2 separate regions of the Homo sapiens genome follow, and region 2 is linked to region 1. The links come from fine-mapping of genetic effects on gene expression. Tissue or cell type: blood mononuclear cells. Region 1 holds a variant in brackets; the other region holds the start of a gene. All regions are shown on one strand. Distances are between the middles of the regions.

Region 1 (2,500 bases):
CATCACTGAATAAGTTACTGATAGCCTGCACACAGGAAGTGTTGGGCTGGGGTTCTCCGTGAACCTGGGGAAGTGAGGAGGTTTGCAAAGACAGGAAGAGTCTGGGGTGGGGAGATACCCAGGCTAGGCTGGGGAGATACCCAGGCTAGGCTGGTGGCGCTCAGGGGAGAGGACAGAGGTGAGGGGACTTAATAAGCACCTAGAGAGATGCCTAAGACTCTCAGTTAACCGTCTAAAGTAGGGACACTTTATTGCCATTGCACAGGTAGGGAAACTGAGGCCCAAGGGAATTAACCCTGACCTGGCCAGGAGCCAATGGAGGAAACCCTGTACAGTTTGATGCACAAATATTTATAGAGTTCCCACTAGGCTCCCAGACCATCCCTAGGAGCCGAGCTGCCCCTTGACCCCATCCAGGCCTCAGTTTCCCCGCTCACACTTCGCCCCCGCCTCGTGGGATTCTAAACTGTTGCTCCAAGGTGGGAGTTGAACGGAAACTACAACTCCCGAGAGGCTGTGCGGCCAAAGACACACGAGAACTACGGAGGCGAGAGACTCGCTCAGCCAACTGCCGCTCTCGTAAGGCTCGGGCTGCCCTTGGCGCTGCCGATCCGAGACGTTGCTGCATTCAGGCATTCGCCGACGACAGACCAGCGCGGGGCGGGGTTAGGCGGAGGGGGCCTGATTCGGATTCGGCGCAGGCGCAGTCCGCGCGGGTTCTCGCGCGGAGAAGGGGTGCGAGCGGCGGCGGCGGCGGAGGCTGCCATGGACGACGAGGAGGAGACGTACCGGCTCTGGAAAATCCGCAAGACCATCATGCAGGTGAGCCGCGCCTGGTGTTGGGGGCGGGGGCGCGGGCGGCGGGTGTAGGGGCCCGAGGTGGGGTCGAGCACGGCGTCTCCTCGTACTCTCGTCGGAGCAGCAGCGATGAAGGGCCGGGCCGATACGGGAGGCCCAGAGGTCGCCGGGGATACCAGGCGCTGGACCCGACCTGAGCCGGCAGCGGGGAAGGGAGGGGGTTTCGAGACGTCTGGGTGCGGTGCTTAGGGGTGGGTGGGCGGCTTGGGCTGGTGCGGCGCGCGTGGCGGCGAGAGGAGGAGGAAGCCGCGAATGGGGACGGGGGGCGCCCCCAGACTCTGCCCTTCTCTGTGATTCAGCGTCGCTATTTGTCCTTGCGTCCTGAACCCCATGGAGTCTTCAGCATC[C/T]GAGGCTGGCAGAGTTGGTGGTTGGGAAGCAGCGGGCGAGCTGGGGCTTTCGATGGGGACGTGGAGCTCGGAACCCGTGCCTTGGGGTCTGGGGCAGATGGAGGCCACTGGGTCGAGTCCGGTTTGGAAGCCGGGCACAGGCCTGAGGACCTGCGGTTCAGGGTATTGCCTCAGCCATTGGGGCCGTTTGAGAGCTTTTGCTTTGTCTTGCTTCCCACCCTTTGCCCTTGTCCTCAGCGAAGCCCCCCGCAGCCTGATTCTTCTTTCTCCGATCCTCAAACATTGTCAGCCTGAAGTCACATCTGTTTCGGTCCCTGTCATTTTTTTTTTTTAAGAGATAGGGTTTCATTCTGTCGCCCAGGCTGCAGTGCAGTGGTGCAATCATAGCTCACTGCATCCTTGAACTGGCCTCCAGCAACCCTCCTGCCTCAGCCTCCCTAAGTACTGGGATCACGGGCGTGAGCCTCCGCGCCCCGCCTTTGTCCCTGCCTTTAGGGTAGCTCTGCAAAGTGGTTTGGAGGGCTTTGCTCCCTGCCAGGTTTCTGTGAGGCTGGGTGGACAGACGGTCTTGGTCAAGGCTGGACATCTCTGGGAGCCTCTCAGGATCATACTGGTCCCATCCTGTGGTGTGAGGCTGTGGGGGCCGGGGTGGCTGTCATGGAGCACACAGTGAGTGTTCATCCCGTTTGCTGTTCACCTCTGTCCTCTGCAGCAGCCGCAGGTCTGACTTCCGGGTCACGAGCTTTGGCCGCCTTCCTCTCTCTGCCCTGGGGTCAGCTGGTTCTTTCTCTCTGCAGCTGTGCCACGACCGTGGCTATCTGGTGACCCAGGACGAGCTTGACCAGACCCTGGAGGAGTTCAAAGCCCAATCTGGGGACAAGCCGAGTGAGGGGCGGCCGCGGCGCACGGACCTCACCGTGCTGGTGGCCCACAACGATGACCCCACCGACCAGATGTTTGTGTTCTTTCCAGGTGAGCAGCGGGTCCCGGGGGAGTTCCGGTGAAGCCACCAGAGCACCTGCCGAGGAGCCGGTCGCTAGCACCCACCCCCACTCGCCTGGTGCCCAGCATTTGTCTCTCTGCCCAGTCTGGGAGGAAAACTCCCCTCCCCTTCCTTGCTGTGGGTGATGCCGTTGATCTCTGACCCCTCTCATGCTCAGCTTCTTTCTAGTTTCCCTCTCAGTCCCCTTCTCTCTTCCTGCCAACGAGGAGAGTCACAAGGGCCTCCCCACTCACCCCCAGCCCCCCATGTCCTTTGCCCTAGTGTCCCTTGGCTCCCCCATCCTGGCCGTTGG
Region 2 (2,664 bases), 28 kb after region 1:
GCGGGAGGGGGGTCCCCACTTCCTGGTGGGGGTGGGGAGGGTCCTCAGCCCTTCAAGCCCCCCTCAGGCTCCTACAACGCAGGTGCTTTAAGTGAACACACTTCTGACTCTGTCTGTCCCCTAAAGGTCCATGGAACCCCAGAGCCTATGGGCAGCCCCAGGCCTTGTAGACATCCCGGACCCCCAAGCTCTGTAGACCCCCCCCCCAGCTTTGTAGACACCCCAGGCCTGGGGACACTCCCCAACCTCTGAACCTGGTGGATCCCATTAGAGGATCTGCTGCCCGGTCAACCTTCAGCCCAATGGCCAGGCCACAGCCCTCCCATCTCAACGGCCCCTAGAGCCCCCAGATTGCCTAAGCCCCCAACCTGCAGCGGCCCAAACACAACATCGTCCCAACCCGGCACCCTCCCTTCCTGCTCCCTGGGCCCCGCGGCCAGCCCTGGATGGAGTGGAGGGAGGCGGCCACCACTCCCAGGGTCCCTACCGTGAGCTGAATGCCGGGGTCCCGGCCTCTCTGCTGTGGCCCCTGCCGTCCCGCCCGGTAGGGGCTGTAGCTGGCACGAGCCCCCAGCCGCCGCCCCAGCATGAGCCCCGAGCACAGGGCGGGTCCCTGTCCCCCTGCGGCCCGGCGTCAGCTCCGGGTCTCACCCGGGCTCCACTCACCCCCGAGGGCTGCGGGCTGGGGCTTCCCGCGCGGTTCTTTTTCGAGATGGAAGGGGTTTTCATGAGCTCTCGTTTCTTCCTGGAGAACATGATGGGGCCCCGGCCGGGAGCCCGAGGGGGCGGGCTGGGGGTCTCAGCGCTGCAGCTCCCGGCGCTGGCCGCTTCGGGACCACATTGTCGCCGGCCACCCCCTCCCCAGCTGTCAGGCCCACGTGACAGGCCCGGCCGTCACTGGCGGGCCCTCCCCCCAACAGGAAAAGGCTTCGGGGAGGCGGCGACGCGGCCTCGCCCCCGACCCTTCCCGGCCTCAGCCTGCGGCTCTGCGGAGTGGGCGCGAAGGTGAGGTCGCAGGCCCCGCCCCCAGCCCCGGGCCGCGCCCCCCGCTTCCGCCTTCGGGAGCTCGGAGCCGCGCCGCTCGCGGGGTGGGACCGGGAGCCCCTGCCTGACGCTGGCGGGCACGGGGCGGCCGACTGCAGGGCGCTGACTCTCACTCCCGGACGCGAGTGGGCGTGCACAGACACGTGCACGATGACACGCAGAGACCCGGACCTCCACACGCGCTCAGACGCCACCAAGCCCCTGGAGCCTCGCCCTCAGACCCCAGACACACGCACAGGCCGAAGCTGCGCCCCTGCAGCCCCCTTTTCCCTGAAGGCAAGCCCGCTCCACCGCCTCTCCTGCAGACCCTAGGGTGTGGCCGGGCCCCAGCAGGGCCGGGCAGAGTAGGGTCCCCCCCATCACCCGCCCTGCAGCCCCGTGAAGTGGGTCAGGTCGAGGACAGGTGGGGAAACTGAGGCCCAGAACCGAAACCCTGGGGGCAAAGACGTCCAGGAAGTCAGAACAATCCAGGTTACCGGGCCCTGTCCGTCTGGGTCCCCACGTCCGTCTGGGTCCCCACGTCCACCTGGTCCTGGGCTGCCTGCACAGGGGTCCCCAAAGTGTGGTGTGGACCCCACCATCGGCAGAATATGCTGAGGACACCTGGTTACCTCTCAGCAGCCCTGTGGGCCATATCATGTTGCCCCAGACCTGCCCTTAGCTAAGGTCCCCAGCCCCGCCTCCCAAGCTGCATTCCAGTGACTCTGGACCACCGGACGTGCTGGGCAGCAGGACGCAGGCACCCGTTGCTGATAACAGCCTGAGGCGGCATTGGCCAAGAGCTGGGGCATCTGCAGGCATACAGATCCCAGCCTCCTACCTTCCCCCAACCCCCACCCCGCAGTGTGAACTCTCTCCCCCCTCCCCAAGTCTCCCTGCTGTCCCCTTCCAGAACCCCACCCCCAATCCCAAAACCCCAACCTCTTTCCTTTCCCAAACCCCATTCCCACCTACCTCGGGTGGGAGGGGCAGATCTCTGGGGCACAGGACATGAAGGCCACAGCCCCTTGCTCCAAGTCTGGCTCTCCAGGCCCAGGTCCAAGTGCAAACCCAGCCCAGCAGACCCTTGAGAACTCTTTGCCCCCGACTCATGGCGCTGAGGGCTGGGGTCAGAGGGTGAGGGTCAGCTGGATGTCGGATGGGCTTCTGGCCCGGCCCTGGCCTGTGCTCCGGGACACCGGGCTCCTGTAAGCTTCCCAGGACATTCCTGAGTCCTGACCTCATCCCCACTTTATGGCCAGGCACTTACAGGTACCGCCCTTAGGCGCCAGCCCCACATAGGCACGCAGGGACGTGGGGACAGGGACGGTGTGACCAGGCCCTTATGAGGCCCGCACTCACATCCCCAACTCCTGGGCTGGCCACAGAGGCATTTACAGCTGGGATCCGGTCAGCTGTAGGCACGCTCACACCTGTGTCCTATGAATCGCCACTTGGCCCGTATGTGCACACTCAGCTTGCAAGGGGCCAGCCATATCCAGACGCATGTGCAGGCAGCTGTGTGGACATGTGTGCAGCCTGGCTCAAGGACACACATGCACACGGTTTCACCACCACGGCTTCTCTCCAGCCTTCTCTTTATTTTCTCCAGGGCACCAGCCCCTCTGCCAGCCTGAGTCC

The links. PIP is the estimated chance that this variant, and not a neighbour inherited with it, causes the effect.
Region 2: ARHGAP45 starts here. The variant in region 1 is fine-mapped to the expression of ARHGAP45 in blood mononuclear cells (TOPMed, PIP 0.95).

Annotation. Positions count from the first base shown.
Region 1 is chr19:1,093,581-1,096,080 of GRCh38, reverse strand. It overlaps POLR2E (RNA polymerase II, I and III subunit E), which reads left to right and starts at 706. Exons shown (of 8, transcript NM_002695.5): 1 at 706-822; 2 at 2,003-2,177. The coding sequence starts at 766. RefSeq lists enhancers at 673-762, 1,520-2,055. The variant C/T (reference allele first, on the strand shown) is at 1,206.
Region 2 is chr19:1,065,498-1,068,161 of GRCh38, reverse strand. ARHGAP45 (Rho GTPase activating protein 45) reads right to left here and starts at 995. Exons shown (of 23, transcript NM_012292.5): 1 at 667-995. The coding sequence starts at 756. ABCA7 (ATP binding cassette subfamily A member 7) reads right to left here. Exons shown (of 47, transcript NM_019112.4): 47 at 2,590-2,664. RefSeq lists silencers at 1-115, 426-1,185 and an enhancer at 1,046-1,552.